7 linked regions of the Homo sapiens genome follow. The protein of the gene in region 7 purifies or fractionates together with the protein of the main gene of each other region. This does not show direct contact. Each region holds a gene or a part of one and is shown on either strand. Other genes may lie near its edges.

Region 1 (4,130 bases), on a different chromosome or scaffold from region 7:
TACTCTATTCTTCTATATATTGCTCTAATGCCAAGAACATAGTTTCTTTAAAATAAAAATTTTTTTTTACATTTACAGTGATGGAGAGATCTATGATGATATTGCTGATGGTAAGTCTTATGTAGTACCACCCTAGAGAACAGTCATAGTGAATTTACTGTTTTTATAAATGCTAAAAATAGCTTGTTGGATTAGAGACTTCCAATCTGATCAGAATTTGAATCACTTGAAAATGTTAGAAAAGGTAAATGCCCTGGCATAATGGGGGGAAAATACCGCATTTCCCACAAGATGGAAAATTAAGGAAAAACCTTATTTATTTCTTTGAAAACAGAAGTATAAAAATATTTGGGAAATTTTTTATTGTACTGTGACTCATAATAAGAATTTCTTTTATCCAAGCAAATAAACATTTTTGGCAAATAAATAGGTACTTATTTCATAACCAGTAATACCAATATTCTCTAAGCATCATATAGTTCCAAACTGTAATCTAAAAAATTAATCTAACTGAAATGATGCAGTGTTGATCATGATTTCCTTTAGTCTTTTAAACTTATGAGTCTTGCTCTTTAATATCTTCAACCTCGTTCAGAGTGACTACCAAAAAGTATATGACTAAGTGCCACATAAAATAATCTTGAGTCTCATTTTAATAGAGAATAAATCTGTCCAGAAATTTTGTTGAATTATATACTAAATAATAAAAGTTAAATATATGATCTTCCATTTAACTCATTTTTTATAAAGTGAGCCAGTTCTATTTTTTTTAATCCTTAACCAGGAGAGTATGAATCACCCACATTTCCAAACTTGGAATACTTAGAGAATATGTTTTTAATAACTATATTTAAATTTGTATTTTTTCCTTTCAGGCTGCATCTATGACAATGACTAGCACTCAACTTTGGTCATTCTGCTGTGTTCATTAGGTGCCAATGTGAAGTCTGGATTTTAATTGGCATGTTATTGGGTATCAAGAAAATTAATGCACAAAACCACTTATTATCATTTGTTATGAAATCCCAATTATCTTTACAAAGTGTTTAAAGTTTGAACATAGAAAATAATCTCTCTGCTTAATTGTTAACTCAGAAGACTACATTAGTGAGATGTAAGAATTATTAAATATTCCATTTCCGCTTTGGCTACAATTATGAAGAAGTTGAAGGTACTTCTTTTAGACCACCAGTAAATAATCCTCCTTCAAAAAATAAAAATAAAAGAAAAAGGAAAATCATTCAGGAAGAAATGACCTGTCTAAAAAAACCTAAGGAAGAATAATAATATAAGAAAGGAAATTTAAAAACATTCCACAAGAAGAAAAATTATTGTTTATACTTCTACTTATGGTTATATCTTATATTCTCTATTCAAGTGACCTGTCTTTTAAAAAGGCAGTGCTGTCTTACCTCTTGCTAGTGGGTTAAATGTTTTCAAAAATTATAGCAGTAGTAGAAGTTTTGTATAAAATTTGTCCTTATTTGTTAATTGTATATAAATGTTAATTATTTGATACGAATGTTATGCATTTAGTATGCACATTGAAGTCTAAACTGTAGAAGAGTCTAAAACAAGTTCTCTTTTTGCAGATTCACATACTAATGGTTTAATTCTGTGCTCTGTTTAAAGTACTATTATAACTAGAGTAGATCTGAATGAGGATAACCCTAAAATCATGAGGAATGGAAGAATGGACCTTGAAACTACCTAGGCTTTTATGCATGGCACCTCTTTATAATGAAGACACTTTTTAAAGTTTTTGTTTTTGTTTCAATTACCGCTAGATTTTTTTTTCTCTTTTTTTAAAATCCATTTTACTGGAAAGTTGGCCAGCAGAGGGAGTAGAAATTATTAAAATTCTAGTGTTTGGATTGGGCCCTTCTCTAACAGTACATACTCATTCCCAAAGCAATCCAAAAACAAAATGTGAACCATTTGGGTTTCAAATGTTAAGAACACTAAATAGCATGATTTAAAAAATGAAAAATGCTAACACCCAAGAAAAGAAGATATTAAGTGCTTTTTAACAACTCCTAGAGTACAAAATGAGTACATCATAATGCTGGCTCTTCTACTAATGAACCATCGAGTGATATTGAATAAATTATTTATCTTCTCAGTTTCCTTATCTGTAAATTACAATATTAGACTAAGTAAGTTTTTCCAACTCTTCACTACCAATTACCTTAGGCTTTTATAATGCTCCGCCTACTTCAGTCCCATGTTTCAGAAGCTTTTGTCTATTTTTTAAACTCATTGATTAAATAATGATTAATGCATTCTCCACATTTTAATATTGCAAAGGCCCATTGGAGTTTCTGAAGTGGCTCCACAGAATTGAAATAATTTCAAATAACTGTAAAGGAACTGAAAATCTTCACAGAGATGAAGTGGGGTTTCCATTAGGTGCTTTGAAATTTGATAACAAATCATCAACTTCCACTGGTCAATATATAGATTTTGGGTGTCTGAGGCCCCAAGATTAGATGCCACTAATCTCCAAAGATTCCCTCCAATTATGAAATATTTTAATGTCTACTTTTAGAGAGCACTAGCCAGTATATGACCATGTGATTAATTTCTTTTCACACTAGATAAAATTACCTGGTTCAAAAGTGGTTTTTGTTTATTAAATTTGGTAATAAATATATATAATACACAGACAGGATAGTTTTTATGCTGAAGTTTTTGGCCAGCTTTAGTTTGAGGACTCCTTGATAAGCTTGCTAAACTTTCAGAGTGCCCTGAGACACTTCCAGCCATCCCTCCTCCTGCCTTCATTGGGGCAGACTTGCATTGCAGTCTGACAGTAATTTTTTTTCTGATTGAGAATTATGTAAATTCAGTACAATGTCAGTTTTTAAAAGTCAAAGTTAGATCAAGAGAATATTTCAGAGTTTTGGTTTACACATCAAGAAACAGACACACATACCTAGGAAAGATTTACACAATAGATAATCATCTTAATGTGAAAGATATTTGAAGTATTAATTTTAATATATTAAATATGATTTCTGTTATAGTCTTCTGTATGGAATTTTGTCACTTAAGATGAGCTGCAAATAAATAATACCTTCAATGGATAACCTTGCCTCCTACTTCATTAAAAAAATTGAGGCTAGCCAGATGCGGTGCCTCACATCTGTAATCCTAGCACTTTGTGTGGCCGAGGAGGGCACATTTCATGAGCCCAGGGGTTCCAGACCATCCTGGGCAACAAGGTAAAACCCTGTCTCTACAATAAATACAAATAATTAGCTGGGTGTGGGGGCACATGCCTGTAGTTTCAGCTACTTAGGAGGCTGTGGTGGGAGGATCACTGGAGCCTGAGAGGTCGAGGCTGCAGTAAGCCATGATTGTGCCACTGTCTCAAAAAAATTTACCCTGTCTCAAAAAAAAGAAATAAATATATTTTTTTAATATTGAGGCCATCAGGCTTCCTCTCTCTTAACTTGATCCTACATCTACAAAACAGTCTTTCTCTGCATCCAACCTTGACTCTAGCTTCAGCCTCAGAAGACGGGATATCTCCTCTTCAAGACCAAACCTTCTACCAAGACTCCTAATACTTTGACTCCTATTTTGTGTCAGAAATTAAGATAACTAAACGCAATTCCTTTCAATTCCCTACAACCTTTGACCTTAACCCATATCCAGACACTGTCCCAGAGAATAAGATGTCATGCCTTAAATTCAAAGCCATAACCTTTGGATCCCATTTCTTCCTGCCTTTTCTGGAGTGTTTGTCTTTTACAATTCATTCTTTCCCATTCTCCTTCTCCTTTTCTGCCTCCCTCTGGCTATCCCTCTTCTTTATCTTTAAGTTCTCCCACTGTGCAGATTCCTTTCTCTAGGCTTACAAACACTGAAATCTTTCCCATCTAAAAAGCAACATGAAACTTTGCCTTGGGCCCAAAAACCTGTCCAGCTACAGCCCGTTTGGATTTTTTTCCCCTCATTTCATTGTCTTAAAATGGCAGGGTATATGTGGCAGCCAGGAGAATGTGCCTCAAAGACTTCCAACTATGGGGCATTTAATTGTCCAAAAGTCCCCAGCTGCTGCATTCTGAAATCCATCACAATGTTTGTGCCAAGATCAGGCTGTTCTAGCTAATGACTGAGTGTTG
Region 2 (4,224 bases), on a different chromosome or scaffold from region 7:
GTTTTGATATTGAATCCAGCAACTTTGCTAAATTAATATCTCCTAATAGTTACCCAACATAATGAGTGCATATGATCACCAAAACATGTTCAAGGAGGTTCATAAAACCCCAAATTAGAAATAACCTAGCTTTCTGTCATCAGGGGAATAATCACATTTATACAATGGAATACTGCTTAGTAATACAGCAACACAGGTGAATCTCACAGACAAAGTGTCGAGTGAAAGAAGCCAGATTAAAAGGTTAACATACTAATAAGTCTATTCCTAGGAAGCTCAAAATAGGGAAAAACAGTCTGTTGTGATAAAAGTGGGAATAACACTTACCTTTGGGGGAGTTTTGACTAGGAAGAGGCATGAGAGAGCATTGTAAGGTGCTGGTGATGCTTTTTATCTTGATATGATTAGTGGTTACATGAACATATGCACTTTGAAAATTCACTGAGCTGTAGACTTAAGATGTATGTATTTTATGTATATTATGCTTCAGAAGAAATTGAGCCAAATTCATGTGTTGAAGGTTTTTAAAAAATTAACACTTTTTTGGAGCAGTTTTCAGTTTATAGAAAAATTGAACAGGAAGTACAAAGAATTCCCATGTAATCCCTCACCCTCTGTATCTTCCTAGTTTCCCCTATTATTAACATCTTGTGTTAGTGCAGTAGACTTGTTACAGTTGCTGAACTAGTATATTAAATATTTGCATGGTTAAAAACTAGCAAATTAAGGCATTACAGAATTGATTAGAAAGAATCTTAGAGATGATTCGTCAACCAAGAGGACTTTGCTGTGTCACAAAGCTAAATGGGAACACACCTAAGGGAGGATCTTACATAGACTTTATTTTTATAAAGCTTTTTGACTACTATACACATGTATCAACATTTCTTTTTTTTTTTCTTATTTCAATAGTTTTTGGGGTATAGCTGGTTTTTGGTTACATGGATAAGTTATTTAGTGGTGATTTCTGAGATTTTGGTGCACCTGTTACCGAAGCAGTGTACACTGTACCCAATATGTAGTTTTTATCCCTCACCACCCTCCCAGACTTCCCCACAAGTCCCCAGAGTCCATTATCTCATTCTTATGCCTTTACATCCTCATAGCTAAGCTCCCACTTACATGAGAGAACATACGATATTTACTTTTCCACTCCTGAGTTATTTCACTTAGAATAATGGCCTCTGGTTCCATCAAAGTTGCTGCAAAATATTAATTTGTTTCTTTTTATGGGTGAGTAGTATTCCTTGGTGTATATATACCACAGTTCTTTATCCACCCGTTGGTTGATGGGCACTTAGGTTGGTTCTATATCTAAGCCATTGCAAATGCTGTTGCTATAAACATGCGTATGAATGTGTCTTTTTTTCAAATAATGACATCTTTTCCTTTGGGTAGATACCCAGTAGTGGGATTGCTGGATCAAATGGTAATTCTACTTTTAGTTCTTTAAGGAATCTTCATACTGTTTTCCATAGTGGGTCTACTAATTTACACTCCCACCAGCAGTGTAAAAGTGTTCCCTTTTTGCCACATCCACACCGAATCTATTGTTTTTGACTTTTTAATTATGGCCATTCTTGCAGGGTAAGGTGGTATCTCATTGTGGTTTTAATTTGCATTTCCCTAATGATTAGTGATGTTGAACATTTTTTCATTTGTCTGTTGGCTGTGTATCTTTTTTTGAGAAATGTCAATTCATGCTCTTTGCCCACTTTTTGATGGGATTAGTTGTTTTTTTTCTTGTTGATTTATTTGAGTTCCTTGTAGATTCTAGCTATTAGTCCTTTATCAGATGCATAGTTTGCAGATATTTTTTTCTACTCTGAGTTATCTGTTTACTCACTGATTATTTATTTTGGTGTGCAGAAGCTTTGTAGTTTAATTAGGTCCCATTTATTTATTTTTGTTTGAGTTGCCTTTGCTTTTGGGATTTTAGTCATGATTTCTTTGTCTAAGCCAATGTCCAGAATAATTTTTCCAATATTATCTTCTAGAATTTTTATGGCTTCAGGTCTTATATTTAAGTCTTTGATCCATTTTGAGTTGATTTTTGTATAAGGTGAGAGGTAGGTATTCAGTTTCATTCTTCTACATGTGGCTTGCCAGTTTTCCCAGCACCATTTACTGAATAGGGTGTCCTTTCCCCAATTTATGTTTTTGTATGCTTTATTGAAGATCAGTTGGCTGTAAGTATTAGGGTTTATTTCTGGGTTCTCTATTCTGTTCAATTGGTCGATATGCCTATTTTTATAGCAGTACCATGCTGTTTTGGTAACTATAGCCTTGTAGTATAATTTGAAGTCAGTTAATGTGGTACCTCTAGACTTGTTCTTTTTGCTTAGTCTTGCTTTGGCTATGTGGGCCGTTTTTTGGTTCCATATGAATTTTAGGATTGTTTGGATTGTTTTTTCTAGTTCTGTGAAGAATGATGATGGTATTTTGATAGAATTGCATTGAATCTGTAGATTGCTTTGGGCAGTATGGTCATTTTCACAGTATTGATTCTTCCATTTCATGAGCATGGGATGTGTTTTGTTTGTGTCATTTGTGATTTCTTTCAACAGTGTTTTGTAGTTTTCCTTGTAAGATTTTTCACCTCCTTGGTTAAGTATATTTCTAAGTATTTTATTTTATTTTTTATAGATGTTGTAAAAGGGATTGAGTTCCTGATTTAATTTTCAGCTTGGTTGTTGTTGGTATACAGCAGTGCTACTGATTTGTGTACATTGATTTTGTATCCTGAGACTTTACTGAATCCATTTATCAGATCTAGGAGCTTTTTGGATGAATCTTCAGGGTTTTCTAGGTATCTAATCATATTATTGGTAAACAGTGACAGTTTGACATCCTCTTTTCCAATTTGGATGCCCTTTATTTCTTTCTCTTCTATAAGTACTCTGGCTAGGACTTCCTGTGTTATGTTGACTAGAAATGGTGAAAGTGGACATTGTTGTGAAGGACGTTTTGTTCCATTTCTCAGGGGGAATGCTTTCAACTTTTCCTCGTTCAATATGATGTTGACTATGGGTTTGTCATATATCGCTTTTATTACTTTGAAGTAAGTCCCTTGTATGCCTGTTTTGTTGAGGGTTTTTATCATAAAGGGATGCTGGATTTTATCAAATGCTTTTTTGTATCTGTTGAGATGATCATATAGTTTTGGTTTTTAATTCTGTTTATGTGATGTACCACATTTACTGATTGGCCTATGTTAAACCATTTCTATATCCCTGGGATGAAACCTGCTTGATCATGATGTGTTATCTTTTTGATAGCACATGTATCAGTATTTCTGTGTATAGATTTTGCCTTGTATAATTAAACACATTTTTTAAGGAAAAAAAATTTAAGGAAAAACTATTTTTAAGGAAATATTTTCAAGAGATGATAAATAAAACCATAGATACTTTTTTGGGTCTTTTTCCCCCTTATATTTATTTCAAAAAAGTATTTATATATTTCATGATTAAGTAAATTCAACTGTTTTAGAAAACAGGGTATGTCCATGTTTAACCATGTTGCCAGTACTAGGCATCAAAGGCTTGGGTAGTTAGTATGTAAGCAGAATTCTGTGCATAAGTTTCTATTAAATTTGATTGTTTTCCTTGGAGAAAGGGATTAAAAAATTTAAAAACTTCTGCCTACCAGTTTGTTACTTTTAATGTGAAATGATACACAAAGTTGGATCAGTATATTGATGAAATTTTTAAGGGTTCTTATCCAGAGAGTTCCCAGTGCCCTTCATTTTATAGGTTTTGCTACTATTATAAATGTAATAATGCCCAGCAACTCAGATAGATAAATGACATAATGAATATTATTTAAGGAATATATCTGTAATAAACTGTTTGTACCTACAGATACCACCTTGTCTTCTTTTCTGTAATTACAACTATTAAAGTATCTCCTCATTTTATTTTCTTGGAACCACCACCAAAGCAAGCATCAAGAAATCCTAATGTCTAGCAAGCAAACGGGGAAGACTTTCTCTTGTGAGAACTCAGACATCATCACATTTGTAAAGGAAAGGAGGCTGTGCTTAGAACTGGCTTCTGCATATAGCCAGGCACTCCAAAATGTGGCTGATGGACAGACCAGGAGATCTTTGTCAAGGATTAGAATTTTCCATTTCTCAGTGCTGTCTGGAACCTATATTCTGTTTTTCTCCTCCTGTGTATATTGTACTCTCAGGCATAATGGACTCTTCTGAAAATAACACAC
Region 3 (4,224 bases), on a different chromosome or scaffold from region 7:
GGATGCATGTGACTGTCTCGGTGTGAGGTTCACCAAAAAGAAATGTCACCATATCAGCAGAGGACTGAATGCATCTATATTCTATATACCTATTATAGGTTGTTATCACTATGTAGGCAAAGGTAGGCGTCTGCCCTGCCTTTGTACCTTACGCCCACAGCCCACATTTCTCTGCTTGAAGATCTTTTTTAAGAATTATTTTCTTTTTTCCAGCCGTCTTAGCAATATTCTATTTTTACCTGATTTCACTTAATAAAAAGTTAGAGAATTTCACATTATATAATTTGTTGCAGAATCCCTATCCCTTGACATATCCTAGCATGGTGTATGCACATAAATTACTTGGTTGGACATTTGATCATTTCCTCCTTGAGCAGGGCATTGGCAAATTTAGACTTCAATTAAATCATCATGCAAAACCATGTAATATGAAAACACAGTTGCATATTTTTTCCATTATTCTTGTGAATTTAATGGAAACAAGAATAAGAATTGCATCAAGTTGAGGTATCAGTGGAATCACAAATTGTATCTCCTACAGGTTTTGCCATATTGCAACTTTGCAGTTCCAATTAGGATGGACCTCTGTGAATTTTAACCATAAGAAACCATGGTACCTGACACTTGCTGTTGCAGTGTTAACCTGCATACAAGATGAGATATTCAACTACATATCCACTAGGAGAACATCACTGGTTTAGGATATCAAAACTTTTTGCCTAGACTAGATAGCATGATCTTTATGTGACTCCTGCTGCCTGTGGATGGCAACTGCAAAACATAGTCAAAATCATGTAAAAAGAAAATACTATATGCATGCTATACAAATCTCACTGGGATGATTATAGGATTATTCTACCCCATAATGCATAGAATTTAATACTTTGGAGCAAAATCTGGCTCCTGTGGAACTCGAGATCTTTACCCGTATAAACTCACCACGTGTAGATAATCTGTCCTCTGGGATAGGTGTAGAGTATGATGTAGCAGTCACCACCATAGAATTCACCATATGAGTTTTGGTCAACTTGGATCCTACCATTGTTTTCTACACGCCAAATCTGGAAGGAATGGAATATATACAACAAATTACAATTTTCTTGATCTAATAATATTTCTCATAAGCTTTAAATAATTTTTGGTTCAAATCCATTATTAAACAACTTTTAAATTATTTATTAACTAGTTTACAAATCAAGCAAAGAAATTGTTATCGATTTGCCAATTTATTGACATTTTAACTACTTTTATGTGTCTTTTGCTTCCTCTACAGTATTAAGCTCAGTTCCGAGCCCATTGATTAATAAATACTTATTGTTTCATCTACTAGTGGAAATAACATGACACTCCAGTGGAATAAAAAACTGCAAGATTCAGCTCAGAAATATATATCTATTTTATAGTTAATTTTTTTCTTCAATTATGAAATAACATATATATATATTTTTTTCCCTGTGCTTTAAGATAGCGGACTATTATTTTCCCAGGCAAAACTTGATAGACTGTGACCAAATACTAAAAATGCTACAACACACTGAATGTTTGAGTCCCTCCACAATGTATGTTGAAATCCTAACCTCCAGTGTGATGGTATTAGGAGGTGGGACCTTTGGGAGGTAATTAGGTCATGAGGCTGGAGCCTTCATGAGTGAAATTAGTGCCCTTATAATCAGAAAGCTCTCTAGCTCCTTTTCCACCATGTGAGGATGCAGCAAAAAGTCTATGAACCTGAAAGTGGATCCTCCACCAAACACTGAGCCCATCAAAACCTTGAGCTTAGACTCCCCAGCCTCCAGACTGGTGAGAAATACATGTTTCTGCTTAAACCCCCAATCTATGGTACTTTTGTTATAGTAGCCTGAACAGACTAAGACCATGCCAATAATATGACTTCTGTTTTTAAAAGGTGCCATCCAGGAATAAGACCGAAATGTGATGCTGGGAGAAAAGCAGGCAGAACCACTTTCATTCTGCCTCCTCATCTTCAGCACAGATTAAACACCCTCCAACTTGGAGAGATGAGAATTGTAGATGAAACAGGAGAGTAACAAACGAAGGAGAGGCTGCCAGGCACTGTGTGTGTACATGCAAGCAAACACACACACACACACACACACACACACACACACGCGCGCACACTTGCCTAAGTTCTCAGTTGGGAAGGGCAGACTCTTTGCTTTGAAATCTGAAGATAAGCAAGTGGACAGGAACAGTGCAGTGCTTCTAGAGAGAGGCCACCCCATACTATCCTAGTGAGCAGAAGCCTTAGATCCTAGAGAGAGCACAAGATCCGAGAGAGAGCCCCCAGATTTCAGCAGCCCTAGGATGGCACAGGAGAAGGCTGCAGCCAGGACACAGCTGGTGCTGGGGACCAAGTTTGCCAGGAGGGCTGAGCTCTGGCAGGAATGTCTGAGCAGGAGACAGATGCAGACCCAGAAGTCAATACCCCTCTGACAACAGCCATGAGGGACATTTGTGACCTTCTCCCTTGGCACTTCCCACTCTCCAACACCCATGCCGCTTAGATTCACGCTTCACGTCTTTGAAAAGAGGAAAAATTATTTCCCTAATTTCTTGACCATATACTTTGGTCCAAGAATTGTAGTAAGCCCTAGGAATATAGAGATGAAATATTTCATTCCTGTCCTCAAGGAATCGATGAGAGCTCTAGGAGAAATCTGGCAGTAAATGAACAACTCTGTGGTAGGTATATGATAAATTATGTGAGAAGTATCGCTAGAGGTTGAGCACAGAGAAAGGCCACTTCAGCGCTGAGGGAAGCCTTCTCAGAAAAGGTATGGCTTGTGATTTAACTGAGTTGCCAAGGAGGCGTAGGAACATTAGCTAGATGGCAGAGGGGAAGTCAGTCCTCAAGGCAGTGGAAGGGTGAAGCCAAGATGACGGAAAGGGTCAAGGGTCCAGCTGAAGATGGATCTTCTCAGGAAGGCTGTGGAGAGCCATTAAATATGTATAAATATATTTAGATATACATTTATAAATATATATGTATATATACACACAGATATATGTGTATATATACACATTTATGTGTGTGTGTGTGTGTGTGTGTATACACACATTTCTCACTCTGTCACCCAGGCTGGAGTGCAGTGTTATGATCTTGGCTCACTGCAGCCTCCACCTCCCAGGCTCACGCGATTCTCATGCCTCAGCCTACCAAGTAGCTAGGACTATGGGCGAGCTCCATCACACCTGGCTAATTTTTGTATTTTGAGTAGAGGTGGGGTTTCACCATGTTGGCCAGGCTGATCTCGAACTCCTGTCCTCAAGTGATCTCCCCCACCCTCCCCCTACATACACTGGCATTAATGGGCTTGATAAAAACAAAAACAGGTAAATACCTCCACTTTGCCAGAACCATCATCCACCATATTGTGCTGGGCTGCCATCTGCGGAGAACTGTGTAATTTTGAGGCATCAAAGGGAATTTGTTTTATTTGAGCCACTTTCTCTGTGACATAAACTTTCCCGAAGCCATCACTCTGATCTTTATCTCTCCAGTCCTTAAAAAACTGTTTGAAGATTGGTGTTTCACCTCCTTCTGGAAGAACTTGAATCTGAAATTTAAAATAATAATAATAGTAAACAGGAAAATAAGAAATTAAGGGAAAATATGAATCTGGCAGTGGAGACAAAAGTAAGGAAATGGAAAATTATCCTGGTTTAGCTATCAAGCTCATATAATCCAAAATTGCTTTTTCTCACAACTAAAGTAATTGCCGCTGAATTTGAATATTTGAGAGAAGAATCAAGTTCTTTAATATGTTACCCCTGCAGTAAAATAAGTTTGTCTTTCTACATAAGGTTCACAAGAGCTCTGTGACCTGGAAGAAATGATCTCATTGTGTTCCTTGTGCAGGGACATAAAAATGAGGAGAGTAGATGAGGCTGAGAGATTCGGAAAGGAAAGGAGTAACTAGCCAGGGTCTAAATTGATTTCGATGAAGACAAATATCATCTGGGTTTCAGGCCAAGTCTGCACAACTTGCTCTAAGGAATAATAACTCTTAAGTGCTCTTAGCTAAACCTACTGTGGTTTACTATCTTGAATTAAAGGCTGTGGAGGAAGTGAATGGGCAGCTCTATGGAAAGTCTGATGTGCAGTTTCTAAAAAATTCTAACCCCCACGCAGATAAAGAAGAGGGACACCAGATTGCAGCAGACAGGCAGGTGGAGAATCACTTCACATACAGACGTTACTTT
Region 4 (4,857 bases), on a different chromosome or scaffold from region 7:
CCTCACCACATAGTTCTTCCTGGGGTTTCCTTCCACACTCATCTCTCCAAGACCTCAGGAAGGCTGCTCATTGCTGTCCATGGACACTTGTTTGCAATTTCACATAGGTTAGGGTCCTTTCCATAGAGAGGCACCTGGGGACTCCTGTGTGTTCCATTGTTAATGGTTTGAGGAACAGGGAGTAGGGCACCTAGGATAACTGTTTTTGACTTTATAGAGTAGGATGAAAAAGCTTCCACTTCACTTTAATATGGTAATCATATAAACACCATACCATTTATCCCAAATAACACTTTGGAGATATTGGATATTGAATATAAAGACAGACATTAAGGGTCTAATTTCATGATGTGTCATGCTGAATTGCAAGATGGCAGGACTATAATTTTAGAGGAAGAAGAGATCAGGAGGACTCCCCTAAGTGAGGAGTGTGGGGAAAATGTAAAAGATCCAGGTTAGAAGAAAGAGACACACATCATGAGATTTTCGGAATCATGCTGGAACTATGGACCATGTCACTTTCCAGAAAATAAAGGAAACAAATGCTTGAAAGTAGGAGCATGAGCTTGAGCATGGAGCTTTTTTCATTAGAGAGAGATTCTTAAAATGCCAGAATGAATAGAGTTGTAAAACTTTAGCGAGCCCCTACTTAAAATCCCTCCTCCCCACCACCACTATTTTAAACTTTAAGTGACTCCTTGGTAGTCACACAGGTAACATTTCAAAATGGTGATCTGGAATCCAAGCGACCCTTCCTTTGGGGAATTTGTTTGTTTGTTTGTTTTTAGTTTGGGAGGTGGTTTCAATCTGAAGAGTCCTTTCTGGAATAAACGAATCTTTCTGTTGCATAGGAAGGCTCTGGGTCAGGAAGGATATTTAAAAACCTAATTACTGTTCTAAACAGTGTTAAAATAGAACAAGAACCAAAGCTCAGTACGGGGCATTTCCCTCATAGGCTGAAGGTGCGCCCAACATAATTTGGAGTACAGACTCAGAGGCACCTGAACACGCGCCAGCTCAAGGTGCTCCGGCTGAGAAGGACGGATGAAGATGAACGCTCAGGGCCTACTAAATTCAAAGTCTGTACGTGAAAATCCCCTTTGGCCTGGTGAGATTGGTTGGAACCTTCTATTTAGGAGAGCCCGGCTCGCTCGCCTAAAACTGGAGCTTGCATGGAAGAGGGCACTTTTTTTTTTTTTAGACGAAGTCTCACTCTTGTCGCCCAGGCTGGAGTGCAATGACCCGATCTCGGCTCACTGAAACCTCTGCCTCCTGAGTTCAAGCGATTCCCCTGCCTCAGCCTCCCGAGTAGCTGGGATTACAGGCGTCCGCCACCACGCCCTGGCTAATTTTTGTATTTTTAGTAGAGACAGGGTTTCACCATGTTGGCCAGGCTGGTCTCGAACCCCTGACCTCAGGCGATCCGCCCGCCTCGGCCTCCCAAAGTGCTGTGATTACAGGCGTGAGCCACCGCGCCGGACCAGAAAGAAGGCACTTCTTAATAGTAGGCTCAGAGCTTGAAGTAGTAACTTTGAGAAAATTCAGTGATTCTCCAATTACAAAGCATTCTCCAATTACAAAGCAAGGACAACAGATAAAGTTGCCCTTGAGACAACTGTATTTTACTTAATGATAAAGAAACATTTTTGCAGTTTTATATCCCAGAGTAACCGCCACTAAAGGCGAGTGAGACTCATTGCAGGCCTGTACAGTGCGAACCAGAGTTCGGGCTCCAGTTCCGCTGTCTGCGGGTCTCGCGCGCCCCCTCCCGGCGGCCCAGCCCAGAATGAAGGCCTTGGCTGGGGAAGCGAAAGCGAAAGCTGCCCGAGCCCTGACGCCCGCCCTGGCCGAGCGTAGCTGGCGGACCAGAGCCGGTAGCGAGGTTGGGAGAGACGGAGCGGACCTCAGCGCTGAAGCAGAAGTCCCCGGAGCTGCGGTCTCCCCGCCGCGGCTGGTGAGTTGGTGCGGAGGGGAACCTGGAGCGCCAACAGGGACGCAGCCCAAGTGACTACCCACTCCACGCTCCTGCTTCCCAGTCCCTCTGCACCCGGCGATAGGAGGGAGCGGAGCCCGGACCACTTAGCTCGCCGCGGCAGGCGGGGGTGGGGGTGGGGGTCCGGGGATTTTTTTTTTTTTTTTTTAAGCACGAGGCTCCTGATGGTCATGCTTCCAGCTCCCCAGAAGGCCGAAAGCTGTCTGTCGTAGGAGGGGTGTACGGATGAGCACCGGTTACTCAGGAGAGCTCTCAGGGTTGAATAGGATAAAATGAGAAGCCGATGGACGGGTTAGGCGGAGCCGGGCGGGTAGGAGGGCAGGGACAAGGATTGGGACTCCACCCCCATGATTTCTCATCTCGTATCCGTTGACAGAGCCATGCGGCTCCCTGACCTGAGACCCTGGACCTCCCTGCTGCTGGTGGACGCGGCTTTACTGTGGCTGCTTCAGGGCCCTCTGGGGACTTTGCTTCCTCAAGGGCTGCCAGGACTATGGCTGGAGGGGACCCTGCGGCTGGGAGGGCTGTGGGGGCTGCTAAAGCTAAGAGGGCTGCTGGGATTTGTGGGGACACTGCTGCTCCCGCTCTGTCTGGCCACCCCCCTGACTGTCTCCCTGAGAGCCCTGGTCGCGGGGGCCTCACGTGCTCCCCCAGCCAGAGTCGCTTCAGCCCCTTGGAGCTGGCTGCTGGTGGGGTACGGGGCTGCGGGGCTCAGCTGGTCACTGTGGGCTGTTCTGAGCCCTCCTGGAGCCCAGGAGAAGGAGCAGGACCAGGTGAACAACAAAGTCTTGATGTGGAGGCTGCTGAAGCTCTCCAGGCCGGACCTGCCTCTCCTCGTTGCCGCCTTCTTCTTCCTTGTCCTTGCTGTTTTGGGTGAGTCAGGAGAGGACGTTGTGAGTTGGAGGTGGTAAAAGGGCCTGGGCACCAGCACATTCTTGTGTTATTTTTCATGCCTCTTTCAGGTGAGACATTAATCCCTCACTATTCTGGTCGTGTGATTGACATCCTGGGAGGTGATTTTGACCCCCATGCCTTTGCCAGTGCCATCTTCTTCATGTGCCTCTTCTCCTTTGGCAGGTAGGTGGTGGGCAGCTGGGTCCATTTGCTAGCCCCAAATCTTTATAGGGGTCTTCACTTCCCTAACTCCATTTCTAGGCCCTTTCAGGCGCAAAACACAAAAATACTTAAACTAAAATATGGTGAATGTAGTCACCATTCTGTTTCATCTATCCATTCATTTCTTCCTTCGTTCATATTCATCCAATATCTTCAAAGTTTATCTGATCTTATTATAGGAACAAGTTATGAGTGAAGGTAGTACAAAAGGAATTTAAGTCTCAGATGGAATGTCTCTCAGTTGTCTCTCAACATTCCTAGGTCCATGAAATTCCATTTCTTTCTGCCTCCTACCTCCTACCCCTAAGTCTGTCTCCAAAGTATCTCTCCAGGGTCACTCCCTCAGGATGGGTATGCTTCTCCCTTTCACTCTTCTTTCCCAGCTCATCTTGCCAGTCCCTGAAGATCTTACTCTGAGGCTTATCACCTTTCTTTCCAGAATCATTACTCTTTTCCCTTCACTTGCTTTCCTTTCTCTTTCTAGACATACTCAAACAAACAAACTGTTTGATAAGGCTGGGACTGGGATGAGGTGAGCGAGGCACCTGGGGTGCAAAGTTTAAGGAGGTGTGCACTCACCTTACCCAAATCCCAGCCGGCCTGATTGTCTCTATTTTTATGGTCATACTTAATTTAGAGTACCCTCGAAAACCATTTCATTGTGCCTTCATTCCATCCTGGCTGCTTTCTGCTGAAACTACAGTCGTGCACTGCATAACGAAGTTTAGGTCAATGATGGGCCACATATAAGATGGTGGACCCACAAGATTATAATACCATATTTTTACTGTACCTTTTCTATGTTTAGATACACAAATACTTACTTCTGTGTTACAGTCGCCCACAGTGTTAGGTGCAGTTATATGTTGTACAGATTTGTAGCCTAGGAGCAATAGGCTAAACTACATGGCCTAGGTGTGCAGTAGGCTATGACATCTAGGTTTGTGTAAGTACACTCTATGATGTTCATACAACGATGAAACCATCTAACGACACATTTCTCAGAACACATCCCTGTCATTAAAGTACAAACCCTCATTATATCATGTCTGACTCTCCCAAACGCCTCTTCAATATGGTAACTAAATTTGTATTAGAAACATATATTTTGTAAAATACATGCTTTTATGCTTTATATTTTTTCCTCTAAGTGTTACTGTAGCATGTAGTTGGTCTAAGAGGGATTTTCCAACTCGAAGGATGAAAGATGGGAATCACATGACTCTGGGGCTCCAGAGAATTGTGGGGGCAGGGAATTTATTATTGCAGTTCCCATGATGAAGTATCTATGATGACAGAGAAGGGCTTTGGGTATGGGGCAGGAAGGAGACCAAGGCGGAGGAGACGCACAGAGGGACAAGCCTGAGGGACGCTGGGACAGAAGCAAGCACTGGGATACTTGTTTTCACAATATCTTTTCCCTTCTATTGTAGTTTTCTATTGTGTCTAGTACAGAGTGCACTCCATAAATACTTGTAAATTTGTACATGTTATGATTTTGTTCTCACATCTAGCTCACCATGTCTCCTCTTTCTTCTTCCTCTGTGTATTCCTTACCTCTTCTCTCTCTGTGTGTCTGTCTCTCATTTCTTTCTCTTTTGCCCCTCCTGGCATGCTTTCCCCTGACTTTGCGCTTCTCTGCACTCCTGGCTTGCTCCTCTGTTTCACCCGCTGGCTTGCTCCTTCTCTGCATCTCCCTCCCCTCTTATTCTCCTACCCCACAGCTCACTGTCTGCAGGCTGCCGAGG
Region 5 (4,224 bases), on a different chromosome or scaffold from region 7:
ACTTTCTGGGCTGGGCGAGGTGGCTCACACCTGTAATCTCATCACTTTGGGAGGCCGAGGCAGGCAGATCACTTGAGGTCAGGAGTTGGAGACCAGCCTGGCCAACACGGTGAAACCCCATCTCTACTAAAAATACAAAAAAAAGGCTTGGCGCAGTGGCTCACGCCTGTAATCCCAGCACTTTGGGAGGCCGAGGCCGGTGGATCACGAGGTCAGGAGATCGAGACCATCCTGGCTAACACAGTGAAACCCCGTCTCTATTAAAAATACAAAAAATTAGCCGGGTGTGGTGGCTGGTGGTGGGTGACTATAGTCCAAGCCACTCGGGAGGCTGAGGCAGGACAATGCTGTGAACCCAGGAGGCGGAGCTTGCAGTGAGCCGAGATTGCGCCACTGCACTCCAGCCTGGGCGACAGAGCGAGACTCTGTCTCAAAAAAAAAAAACAAAAACAAAAAACAAACACAAAAATAGCTGGGTGTGGTGGTGGGTGCCTGTGATCCCAGCCACTCGGGAGGCTGAGGCACGAGAATCACTTGAACCCAGGAACCAGTGGAGGTTGCAGTGAGCAGAGATCACTGCACTCCAGCTGGGGTGACAGTGTGAGACTGTCTCAAAACAAAAGCAAAACAAAAAAAAATTTCTGATATTAATACAAATTTATTATAGAAAATTAGGAAAAAAGATTTTTAAAAACCCACTCATAATTGCCATACTCAGACAATGCTTGTTGCCATTTTGGTGTATGTCCTTTTAGAGAACAACTCAAAATTGGAATCACTACACATGATGTTTTCTTTTTTTTTTTTAACTTATCAAAAATTAAGAATTATTATGAAGCTCTATTTCTTCAGACAGTCTGGAATAAGGTGCAAAACTGTACAAATTGACCAGCAAAGGAGAAAAGAGAGCCCAGAAGCAGACCAATACAAAAATGGAAATTTTATTCATGACCGAGATGACACTGCAAATTGCTTAGGAAAAGCTGACATTTTTAATAAGTGGCACTGGAACAATTGGTTGTGTGGTTGTGTGAATTTAAAAACTGAAATTGGAACCTTATCTCGCACTATGTATAAAAAACCAAATCCATGTGGATTAAGACTATACAAGGCAAAACTATAATGTTGAGCAGAAAGAGTAAGTTTCCAGCATACACATGTTTTCTAAAGCAAAGAGGATGCAGTTAATAAAAGGGATTATAGTATTGTTGTGAGGCCTCTAGAATGTAGAATCATGATGCCTGGGGAAAGCCTGGTTCCTTCAGTGATTCTGGGACAAATTACGTCACATCTCTGCCTCCATGTTTGCATCTTAAAATGAGATGATAACAGTACCTGTGTTGATAAATGAGAGAATACATGTGAGTACTTAGTATACTCCTTGGCATATAGTAACTACTCAGTATGTTTATTAATATCAAAGCCATGGCATCTTAGACTCTCAGGTCTTGATGGGCCCTAGAGGTCATCTGCCAAAATCCCCTCATTTTACAGGTGCGGCAACAGAGACTCAAACGAATTTTTTAGTAGATTTTTAGTAGATTTTAGATTTTTAGTAGTAATTTTTAGTAGATTCAGATATGTCCTTGCTCCCTCTCTGCTCAGAGGCTACCTCACGAAGCATTCTTGGTTTTCTTGCCTCCCTCTCCTTTGCCAGAAGGAGGCCATGTTAGTCTAGCTTTTGTTGGTGCTCTCATAGCCTTTTTTATGTACCTCTTCTGTAGCACCAATGTAGAGGTTGGATTTATGCCTTTATACTTTTGTCTCCTCTGCTAGTGTGTAACTTCCTCAAGGGCTTGGCAAATCTACTTTGTATCTTCAGAACGAAGCTTCTTGACAACTGCTAAATGAATGTGTTTTGGATGCTGGGGGAGAAAAGCTAACAAGTAGTAGAACCGTATCCAGCTGGTGGAAAGGGATAATTCCATTGTGTGTTATTCATTCATCTTACAAGTATTTGTTGAGTGCTTACTCTGCCAGACAGGGGCCTATACAGGGGATACAGTGCTATGTAGGACAGACTGGCCCCTTTCTTGTGGAGCTTACAATCTAACGGGAAAGACAGACATAAAACAACGAGTTCCGTGCTATGCTTATTATTTTGTCGAATGCTATGGAGGAGAATACGGGTGCCAGGAGAGCCAAGAACAGAGCACCTTGGCTTGACTGGGTGAAGAGAGGTCAGGAAAGGCTCTTCTGAGGAAGGAGTTGGTCAGCCTCCATCTGAAGGATGAGTACAGGGTGGCCAGCCAGAGGGCAGAGTGGAGTCCTGGATGTGGGAGTAGCATGTGCAAAGGAGGAGGAAGGAGCACAGCACATTCTAGGAACTGAAGGAAGACCCGAGTGGCAGAGAGTAAAGCTGAAGCTGGTGAGGTGGCCAGAGGTCAGATTCTAGAAGGCTTTGTTGATCATATTACAGTTTTTTTTTTTTTTTTTTTTTGAGCGAGGGTCTTACTCTGTCACCCAGGCTGGAGAGCAGTGGCATCATGGCGTCATCACGACTCAATCCAGCCTTGACCTCCCGGGCTCAGGTGATGCCCCCAACTTAGCCTCCAGGTAGCTGGGACTACAGACATGCACCACCATGCCCAGCTAATTTTTGTATTTTTTTGTAGAGACAGGGTTTCACCATATTGCCCAGGCTGGTCTCGAACTCCTGGCCTCAAGCAATCAGCTCACCTCAGCCTCACAAAGTGCTGGGATTACAGGCATGATCCATGGCACCTGGCAATATTACAGATTTTTTAGTTCAGCCTAAGAGCAATGGAAAACCTAATGGGTTTAACTCTGAGTACTTGCTTTTAGAGAGATGTTGACATAGGAATAAAGGGTGACCAAGATGATAAAGGATCTAAAGTTGTGTCCTGTTTGAAATATTGAGTCCAAAGAAGAAAGAAAAGAGAGTTATGTGATATATGAAGGAATGTTATGTGTTAAGAGGAAGTAAGCTTGTTCTGTGTTGCTGCAGAAAGTATACCTCAGACTATTAGGTAGATGTTCAAGGATGCAGATCTTGCATAAATGTCAGAGACAGCTTCCTGATTCCTAGAATGGGTCATGAACAGAATGGGCTGCCTCATGGGATGCAGGAGGTGTGCAGGGAGAGGCTGCCAGTCCACCTGCCCGGGACTGTCAGGAAGTCCATGTATGGCGGGAGTGGCCTTTAAGAGTTTTTGTGCTCCAGGAGTCCTGGGTCTGTAAATCAGGTGAAGTCTGCACATTTCATACTGTCTTGCAAATGATTCAACAAACCTGAAACTTGATTTCATCTCTTTCTTTAATCTGAAAATTCATAAACTTGAGATTTTGTAAAAAATAAATTTGTAAGATGGAATATGTCCGTTTTTACTTTATTAATATTAGATATTTGAAGTTGTATTTAATTACTTAGGTAAAAGAATCCTTAGGGAACAAAGAACTGTTGTTATTGGTAGGTTAGTCTGAAGCTGACAGTCATGGCTAAAGAAAGCCGACATGTAAAACCAAGTCATTATTTCAAGCAAAGAGGAAAATAACATATTCTGAGAGAACCCAAAACTCCAGAATAACAAGCACTGGCTACTCAAGGGATGCTTTTATATTCATTTGTAAATCAGAAAAGAAGGCCAAAGAAAATAGAGGAATTGGATGTTCCTTCTCCTAGGGGAAGTTTGGACATCATGCATTTAAGCACATTCCTGTAATGGAAATAAGAAGCAACAGGCAAGAGATCCCTAGTGCTGTGTAGCCTGTAATCCGCAATCAGGCAGAGACTCGGGGACTCAGAGACTCGAAAGGCAAGGGAGGTAGGAAGTAATTGTGGTAGAGGTGATGGATGGAGCAGCATTCTCATTTGGAATGGGAACAGGGCGTAGGAATTTTCTCCAGGCCGTCTGAATCTGGAGGAGCAGCTTGAGAGGAGAGAATGAGAGAGATCCAGGCGCTAGGGTAGAATGGTAATGAATGTTTCCGCTTCCTGGGCACGGGCTGAGATGCGCATTCCCCCTCGCCCCTCTCTCCTGTGCGGTCTCCAGTGTGCTTTGTTGGTGGAGAGAAAAGATTCGTTTTCCCCCACCCCTCTTTTCTCCTTGGGTGAATGGGTTCCTAGGAATATGGATTGACACACCCTTCACAAGGTGGATTCTTGCTTCCCTTAAAACAGACTCCATTAGTTAACATTCAACTGGAAAAATGCTGCTTCTTCATCCTTACCTTATCTTGATTGATTTAACAGTTAAGAATGGC
Region 6 (4,224 bases), on a different chromosome or scaffold from region 7:
TTTGAACACTCTTTTTATGCTTAAGGAATGTCCCATATCATGAACCTTGTCTTACTAAGGTAGAAGCAAAAACTTATTTCCTAGTTTCCCTTGCAAGAGTGCAGGATCTGACTTAGGCTCTGCCAGTCAGACACACCTCCTTCACACTGTCTGATTTAGAAGTTAGAGATGCAAGAAGGAAGAGTTGAAGTGTCCACTCACAGTTCTGCCATGGCAGCAGCAGTATTTCTAGCTTACAGCAGCAACAACAATGGCTACGATATTCCTAGATGACAGCAGAGCTAATTGTTGCATCTGGTGTTTCCTATCAAAGACAGGGTTCTTCCATCCAGTTGGTTGGGTAGTGTGGTATTAGGTGTTCCTAGAAATTTAGCCTTAAAATTGTTTCTTAAGCTTTTAATAAACTCATTTTCTGCCTCATAAGCCAGAGTTAGCTTCTGTTGCTTGCAGCTAAGAACTGCTGATAGATGCTACTTGGAGATTTGTGCTGTTTTGAAAACTTGATTAATGTGTATCCCAAACCCCAAGTTTACCATAATTTATGGTATTCCCCTAATTCCCTAGAATTCATCACCTCAGAATTCCACCATTTAATCACTAATTTAAATGTCTCATTCTTGAATCTTAATCTCTTTCTTTCTAGTTGCTTGCTAGAGATGCATTTTAGCATAGTGGTTAGCACTATAGCCTTTGGAGCTACATTGCCAGAATTTGAATCCCAGCTCTGTCATTTGTCAGCATTGTTGTTTCTTACGCAAATTGCTTAGCTTGTCTGTGCCTGTTTCCTCACCTTTCAAATGGGGAAAATAATGGTACCTAATTTATGTGATTTTTAGTGAGACTTTAATACATGCAAAGTGCTTAAAGTGACTGGCACAGAATAAGCACTTCATGTGTATCATCATTATCATTATGATTAACTGCTATTTTGGCTAGTCTTTATTTTCATTCAGACCTCGGTATTTCACCTCTCTACATTTCTGTACCTGTTTTACTTCTTTGTTCAGCTTAGATTTCATGGTCCTTCATTTTATTAACTGCATTTACTTTCTTACCAGTACTTTAAATTCACATCCAAGGTTCCATTCTACTCATGTATCCCCAAAGGCAGTCAAAAATTGCTGCAGAAAGTCATACAGTGGGGTACATGGCTATCATCATAAATGGGAGCCGAATCTACACTGACCTTCAACATGGACCTGCAGTACTGTAATGTTTCTGCAGTACTACTATGTTTCTTTGGTCAGACACTTCTACCTTCTTCAGTAAGATTTTAGATCTTTTACTTTTCTAAAACCAGAGATCCTGGGGTTTTATGTGAAGTATGATTTGTAAAACTTGACAGTGTGTTCGAAACCTTTAAAAACATTGTGCCAGATAAAAGCATTCTGAGGACCAAATTCAGCAGCCTAGTAGTTTTCTAACTCCAGTATAATCAGTGTGGGCAGGCTAGTTAAATAAGTTATCAAGTGGCAGAAGTTAACTTGAGAATCTAGGTGCTGGCTGGGCGCAGTGGCTCACGCCTGGAATCCTAGTACTTTGGGAGGCTGAGGCGGGAGGATCACCTGAGGTTGGGAGTTTGAGATTGGCCTGGCCAACATGGTGAAATCCTGTCTCTACTAAAAATATAAAACTTAGCCAGGTGTGATGGTGCACGCCTATAATCCCAGCTACTCGGCAGGCTGAGTCACAAGAATCACTTGAACCCGGGGGGCGGAGGTTGCAGTGAGCTGAGATTGCGCCACTGCACTCCAGCCTGGGCGGCAGAGTGAGACTGTCTCAAGAAAAAAAAAAGGAATCTCGATGCCAACCTTTTCAAAGTAGTTAAACAGATGCCTGGGACTCTGCCCCATATATTTAGTAGGTTTGGAGTAAAACCCATAGCATAGATATTTTTCAAAAACTTAGCAGATATTGCTGATGCAGAACCAAGCTGAAAACCACTAGCCTGGCAAAAAGCTCTGCACACTTTAAGTGCGAAATAATGTTAGAATAATGAATGCTTTACTACTGCCAAATGAATTTTGAATGAATAAATGATTTTACAGCCTATTTTAGTTTCCCTGGTCTACATGCATGTTGCAACTGAGTTAAGCACTGTTTAAGTCCAGGCACAGAAAAGGAAGAGAGATCTGTTTTTGTTTTTGTTTTTTTTTGGTGGAAGAATACAAAATAAAATGTAGGTATAGCAATCACATCCCTCCTTCTTAATCTTATCTCTGGGCTTACAGTAGTATTCTTATGATTAGTGGTCTTATGACCAGGGCATTCTTCCTGTAGCAAGCAATACAAATAAAATGTCTAGCCCCTCTTATACTAGAACTGGAACGTGCTGAGCTCCTGTTTTCCAGTGCTTACAAAATTGGCCTAGAGCAAGCAAGATGAGTACCATACTACCCCAACCCAGGGCTGTTGCTAAGTAATAGGCCTTTAAAGCACTTTTTCCTTCTTTTTCACCTTAGCTCCTGTCCTTCGGAGCCAGCCTGAATTCTCACTACCTCTTTCCTAAGGAGGGCTCTTACATCAGAAAATACAGAAGAGGTTTAATATTCTTTAGTTCATTTACCCCGTGGCGTTGTTACAGAGGAATGAGAGTCTATTTTATCTCAGAGAAAAAAGTTTGATGATATTAGATAAATCAAAACATTCTCTCGCTTCATTCAAAATAATCTTTGGTACATTTTAAATCAGCATGTTTAAACAAATCAATATGGTCTTTGGTTCTGTTTTTCAAGGGAAGATAAAACATGATTATATTCTGTCAAGGAGACTACCTGTACATAGGCTGTTTCCTACTATGCCTTTTTCATCTCAGCCAAGGTTAATTCATTACAAACAGAACTTTACCATCCTTTGTATCTAACTCAGCTACTGACAGTGAGAAGAAAATGAAACAATCCAATTACTGTGGATTTTTTCAACCCCTTTGCCAACACATATACGTAAGCACACATCTCTGTTCCTTCTCACCTCCATCCTCAGCTATGTCTTTCCCCTTCTCTGCCCTGTGTGTCCCTTGACCCGTTTTTCATATCAGGCTTTTAGAAAAGTAAGGCTACATGAGCCACACTGCCAGCTACTTAGAATTATCCCTTTTGGCGTTGTGTTTGATAGGAAAAGGATTTCTAGAGCTTCAGAGGCAGTTCTTTGTGTGTGTAAGAGGGTGAAGGGGAGGAGGGAGCAGATGAAGGAGGGATGTGTTCTATCTCAGTTAGAAATGTTAATTAATTTTCCCATAGAAACATTTATTATAAATGGTTATTAGGTTCCAGAGTACTGTGAGTGCCGATAGTGCTATTATTTTCCTATGAGGAAATAATGTTCTAAGTACTGAATAACTAACATGAGTGCATTACGGAACATCACCCATTAGTAAATGATAGAAATTACCTATGCAGTTTTACTTTGTGGTTGTCTTTTGTATGAAACATTGTGGCAACTAGGAAAAGCCTTCAGATTTCCTTTGTCTTTTTGTTTTTTTTGGAGACAGGGTCTCTGTCACCCAGGCTGGAGTGCAGTGGCGTGATATTGGCTCACTGCAACCTCCGCCTCCCGAGTTCAAGCAGTTCTCATGCCTCAGCCTCCCTAGTAGCTGTGATTACAGGTGCCTGCCATCACGCTGGGCTAATTTTTGTATTTAAACGGGGTTTTACCATGTTGCCCAGGCTGGTCTTGAACTCCTGGCCTCAGGTGATCTGCCAGCCTCGGCCTCCCAAAGTGCTGGGATTACAGGCATGAGCCACTGTGCCTGGCCTCCTTTGTTGTTTTTTTTAAGAATAATCAAAGGTTACTGGACAGAGATATTCTAAGATACTTATTCCTGTGAGGACATAATCAGCATTTTGTGACTGGTAAAATACTAAACAGAGACATTTGAAATTGATGCTGTTAAATCCTTACCAAGGTATTCATTCTTAGTGAATTTTTTTTTTTTTTTCCTGGTACAGCTGTGACTCCAGGCAGGATCCAGAGAGGAGTTTTCCAGTCTCTTCTCTGGGTTTTGTAGAGACTTACTTTATCCTTCTATGTTAGCTTCTTAAAGCACCACATCAACCTTAAAAGGGCATAAGAAAGGGCAAATTCTTAATGCATTTTTTAGAAAATTGAATATTAACTCTTTTTTCTTGGTTGGGTTTTTTTTTTAATTTTTTAAATATCAGATTTAGTGAGGTATAATTTGTATCAGATAAAATTCACCAAATGTATGCAGTCATGAAACCATGA
Region 7 (4,224 bases):
GCTCTGGTCCTTGAATAAAATACATGCCCAGATACTTTTACTAGCAGTAGCTAACATGTATTGAATGCCTACTGGGTCCCACATTTTGTTTAATTAATTAATTAATTAATTTTTTTGAGACAGGATCTCACTCTGTCGCCCAGGCTGGAGTGTAGTGGTGTGATCATGGCTCACTGTAGACTCAACCTCCTGGGCTCAATCTGTCCTCCCACCTCAGCCTCCCAAGTAGGTGGGCCTACAGGCACATGCTAATTTTTGTATTTTTTGTAGAGATGGGGTTTTGCCATGTTACTCAGGCTGGTCTCAAACTCCTGGGCTTAAGCAATCTGCCCTCCTTACCCTCCCAAATTGCTGGGGTTACAAGCATGAGCCAACATGTCCCGCTACATTTTATCTTTTTTTATCCTCACAATGTTTTACAGATGAGGAAACTGAGTCTTTAAAAGGCTGTGCAACATGCTCAAAATCATAGAACTAAGTGATAGAATCTGAATTCAAACCCAAGTCAGTCTGTCTCCAGGGCCTTTGCTCTTAACCTATGATTGTACTACGTGAAGTAGGGATCTGTAGGAGAATTCAGGAGCAATTTCTGGGTAGAATTCCCCCAGCCCCTTTTAAAAAAGTACTTCTATCGGAGATGTGATGAAATATGAATGACAGGCATGATAGTTTTTAGAGGAAAGATGGCATTTACCATATGGAAGATGGACAACTGTGACAGTGGTGGCGGTGGGTAGCTAAAGGGACGCATAAAAATTGAGTTCTTAATCTAATTAGGATTCTTGGTAGTCAATGTTGGAGAGTTTTAAGGTTTTTAAATGATTTTCCTATTCTTGCCTCTGGAGTTTAGAATACATTACTTAGCTCATTTCTATCAGGGCAGTTACTCTACCTACTTGATGTGTATAACTCCAACACATTACGCTTATTCTTTTCGGTCTTTGCATTCTGTTCTGGAACTTCTCACTTCACTCTACCCCTACCCCCAGCCTGTATTACTGGCACTCTCAGGCTTCAACTTAAATGTCATCTCCTTAAAGAGACACTTTTCTGAGCTCTGAATTAGAGGAGCCCTCTTGGTCACTTTTACTTCACTTTTCCTTATTTACTTCATAGCATATATTGTTATGTAATTGTTTATTGTTTGTCTATATATTGTTAGATTTTCTCATAAAAATGAAAGCAGAACATAGATTTTTTTTTTCCTTTGAGGTTACCTCAGTGACTCAACAATGCCTGCAACAAACTAGGTGGTCAAAAATATTTGTTGAACAAAATTGGCCAAAACTGGCATCATCTTCTCTGAACAAAAAAGTGATAAAAACAGTATCTGACTATTCAGTTGGCTGTGTTTCTGTGTCTTTATTTATTTTTTTTTATTTTTATATTCTAAAAATGTTGCGACAATGGTGGCTCAGCAATTTTTTTTTTTTTTTTTTTTTTTTTTTGAGATGGGGTCCCACTCTGTCTCCTAGGCTGGAGTGTGTTGGCCTGATCTCTGCTTACTGCAACCTTCACCTCCCGGGCTCAAGGGATCCTCTCACCTCAGCCTCTAGTGGCTGGGACTACAGGCGAGTGCCACCACACCCGGCTAATTTTTTTTTTTTTTTTTTTTTTTTTTTTTGAAGAGGCAAGGTATTACTATGTTGCCCAGGATGGTCTTGAACTCTTGGACTCAAGTGATCTGCCTGCCTCGGCCTCCCAAAGTGCTAAAGTGCTAGGATTACAGGCGTGAGCCACCGTGTCTGGCTGTCATTTTTTTCTTTTTGTGGAGACACAGTCTCAGTATGTTGCCTAAGCTGGTCTTGAACTCCTGGCCTCAAACAATCCTCTCGCTCCAGCATCCAAAGTGCTGGGATTACTGGTGTGAGCCACTGCACCAGGCTTGTTCCTGTGTTTTTGGGTGTAAGCAGTATCTTAACAGTCTCAATTAGTCTTAAAATTATTTTAGACTAGTTCAGAAAGTCTTTAAGAAAGCTAGAAAAATTATACATCTGAATTTTTTAAAAAAATTTTAATCTGTTTTGAGAGGTACTAGTCAAATACATTGTAAGATGTCCTTCTATTGGAATTTGTCTGATGTTTTTCTCATTAGACTGGAGTTACAGGTTTTGGGCAGGAAGACCACAGAGGTAAAGTGCCATTTTCATCACATCATATCAAGGGTACATGCTATCAACATGATTTATGACTTAATATTGACCTTGACTGTTCATATTGACCTGAAATAGTGTTTGTGAGGTTTCTACAGTGAATTTACTTTTTTTTCCCCTCCTTTTCTATACTGTATTCTTTGAAGGGAAGTCACTGTTTGCAGCCCACACTTAAGGAATGGGGAGTTCCTTGATCTTAGGGTGGAGTACCTACTTAATTTATTTGAAATTCTTGTCTCTCCTTTCCCATTTATTAGTTTAGTCAAGTATTTACTGATAATAGTGTGGACTCAAGTATATTTATTTTATATTTTAGGTTACACTCCAATATTACATTATTTTGTTGTTCAGGTTGTTCCAGCTTTGTCCTTTGGGAGCTTCCTGTATTCCTTTAACATACATGTGTGTGTGTGTGCGCGTATTTGTATTGATCTTTGAGTACTTCCTTACTATCTGGAAATGTTCCAGGCTCATCTTGTGTATTTCTTGTCCCAGTGCTAGAATCAGCCATTTCCCCAAGGTGCCCTGGTTCCCTTATTGGAGAATGCTATTAGAAACAAGACCTGGGTACTGAGTGTTCTCTTTGCTACTGGGGTGTCATTTCTTTTAGGTCCTTTCAACTGTTAGAGCAAAGAAATATATGAATGTATGCTAACCCCATGTATATAGACATATCTATAAATATTTCTCTATGTAGCCATCTGTGTCTATATTAAGTTAAACGAGTTCCATAGATCACTTTCAGTAGTATGGGCGGGGGGGAAAAACATGAGTTCCTACTGGTGTCTCCAATTCTGATCCATTATCACATAGATCATTCTAGCCTCCTCCCCTTGCTGATCTTTGAATTTCCATTCACAATAGTGAAAAACCTAATTTCCACCATCCATTTATTTAATTGTCCAGTTCCATTATATATGGATATACATACATGGATAGCAGTATCAGAATTGCTAACCCATACTCCATGAAAAAAACTTTATCAACTAGAGTACATACTTCTGTGCAGTTCCTTTTGCCCTTAATCTTTCAGACTCCACTCATTACCAAAGCTACTTAGGTCAGAACCTTTTTCCCACCCCCTTTGGTGAAGTTGTTTCACACATCTGTAATATAGATTCCCTTGTCATAGTCTTCATTCTTTTCTGCAATCTCCCAGTCTCCTAAATGACTTTTTAAAATTTGCATACATTAAAGTTCACTCTTTATGTCATAAAAGTCTCGAACTCCTGCCTTGGCCTCCCAAAAGTGCTGGGATTAACAGTACAACCCACTGTGCCCAGCTGACATAAATTTTTAATTCAGTTGGATAAATACCTAGAAGCAGGTTGCTGGATCATATGGTAAGACTAGTTATAGTTTTGTAAGAAACTGCCAAACTCTATTCCAGAGTGGCTGTACCATTTTGCATTCCTATTAGCAATGAATGAGAGTTCCTCTTGCTCCACGTTCTTAACAGCACTTAGTTCTATCTGGTTTTTGGATTTTAGCCCTTCTGGTAGGTATGTAGTGTCCCCACTTTATTATTATTATTATTTTAAAGAGATGGGGTCTCACTGTGTTGACCAGGCTGGTCTCAAACTCCTGGCCTCAAGCAATCCTCCCATCTCAGCCTCCTGAAATGCTAGGATTATAGGTTTGAGCCACTGTGCCTGACCTAGTGTTCTCACTTTTTAAAATTATTCGTTTTCACGACATTACCTTTTTTGAAAATAAATGTTAGTTTTTTAAGAGGAAACTTTTTAAAAATTAACTTTATTTTGGAATAATTATAGATTGTTCCAACAGAAAAGTTGCAAAGATGATGTGTAGGATTCCTGCATACCTCTCACCCAGTGTGCCCTGTTATTAACATCGTTTAAACAAACTCCAGATTCTGTTTGTGTTTCAACAGTTTTTCTATTCATGTGCCCATTCTGTTTCAGGATCCAATTCAGGGTAACATATTGCACTTCGTGGTCATCTCTATTAGCCTTCTCTGGTCTTTGGCAATTTCTCAGTCCTTCCTTGTTTTCATGACCATGACCATTTTGAGGAGTACTAGTCAGTTGTTTTGTAGACTGCCCTTCTC

What was found.
Region 1: the proteins of CKAP5 (region 7) and FYB1 purify together in Homo sapiens (tandem affinity purification; one study listed by IntAct). This does not show direct contact.
Region 2: the proteins of CKAP5 (region 7) and SLAIN1 purify together in Homo sapiens (affinity purification with mass spectrometry; one large-scale study listed by BioGRID and IntAct). This does not show direct contact.
Region 3: the proteins of CKAP5 (region 7) and SCIN fractionate together in Homo sapiens (co-fractionation; one large-scale study listed by BioGRID). This does not show direct contact.
Region 4: the proteins of CKAP5 (region 7) and TAP2 purify together in Homo sapiens (affinity purification with mass spectrometry; one large-scale study listed by BioGRID and IntAct). This does not show direct contact.
Region 5: the proteins of CKAP5 (region 7) and DDX31 purify together in Homo sapiens (affinity purification with mass spectrometry; one large-scale study listed by BioGRID and IntAct). This does not show direct contact.
Region 6: the proteins of CKAP5 (region 7) and INTS7 purify together in Homo sapiens (affinity purification with mass spectrometry; one large-scale study listed by BioGRID and IntAct). This does not show direct contact.

Annotation. Positions count from the first base shown.
Region 1 is NC_000005.10:39,104,211-39,108,340, reverse strand, and holds the end of FYB1 (FYN-binding protein 1), read left to right. Parts: intron 1-78; coding exon 79-110; intron 111-875; coding exon 876-898; 3' UTR 899-3,089; downstream 3,090-4,130. UniProt on the Homo sapiens protein: Acts as an adapter protein of the FYN and LCP2 signaling cascades in T-cells. May play a role in linking T-cell signaling to remodeling of the actin cytoskeleton. Modulates the expression of IL2. Involved in platelet activation.
Region 2 is NC_000013.11:77,756,545-77,760,768, forward strand, and holds part of SLAIN1 (SLAIN motif-containing protein 1), read left to right. Parts: intron 1-4,224. UniProt on the Homo sapiens protein: Microtubule plus-end tracking protein that might be involved in the regulation of cytoplasmic microtubule dynamics, microtubule organization and microtubule elongation.
Region 3 is NC_000007.14:12,625,938-12,630,161, reverse strand, and holds part of SCIN (scinderin), read right to left. Parts: intron 3,579-4,224; coding exon 3,363-3,578; intron 1,062-3,362; coding exon 940-1,061; intron 1-939. UniProt on the Homo sapiens protein: Ca(2+)-dependent actin filament-severing protein that has a regulatory function in exocytosis by affecting the organization of the microfilament network underneath the plasma membrane.
Region 4 is NC_000006.12:32,835,750-32,840,606, reverse strand, and holds the start of TAP2 (antigen peptide transporter 2), read left to right. Parts: upstream 1-1,867; 5' UTR 1,868-1,954; intron 1,955-2,369; 5' UTR 2,370-2,373; coding exon 2,374-2,866; intron 2,867-2,955; coding exon 2,956-3,070; intron 3,071-4,833; coding exon 4,834-4,857. UniProt on the Homo sapiens protein: ABC transporter associated with antigen processing. In complex with TAP1 mediates unidirectional translocation of peptide antigens from cytosol to endoplasmic reticulum (ER) for loading onto MHC class I (MHCI) molecules.
Region 5 is NC_000009.12:132,662,933-132,667,156, reverse strand, and holds part of DDX31 (ATP-dependent DNA helicase DDX31), read left to right. Parts: intron 1-3,739; exon of another isoform or gene 3,740-3,785; intron 3,786-3,830; exon of another isoform or gene 3,831-3,932; coding exon of another isoform or gene 3,933-3,935; intron 3,936-4,224. UniProt on the Homo sapiens protein: May have DNA helicase activity and RNA helicase activity. Probably have ssDNA and RNA dependent ATPase activity. Plays a role in ribosome biogenesis and TP53/p53 regulation through its interaction with NPM1.
Region 6 is NC_000001.11:212,025,404-212,029,627, reverse strand, and holds part of INTS7 (integrator complex subunit 7), read left to right. Parts: intron 1-3,945; exon of another isoform or gene 3,946-4,067; intron 4,068-4,224. UniProt on the Homo sapiens protein: Component of the integrator complex, a multiprotein complex that terminates RNA polymerase II (Pol II) transcription in the promoter-proximal region of genes.
Region 7 is NC_000011.10:46,836,018-46,840,241, reverse strand, and holds part of CKAP5 (cytoskeleton-associated protein 5), read left to right. Parts: intron 1-4,224. UniProt on the Homo sapiens protein: Binds to the plus end of microtubules and regulates microtubule dynamics and microtubule organization. Acts as a processive microtubule polymerase. Promotes cytoplasmic microtubule nucleation and elongation. Plays a major role in organizing spindle poles.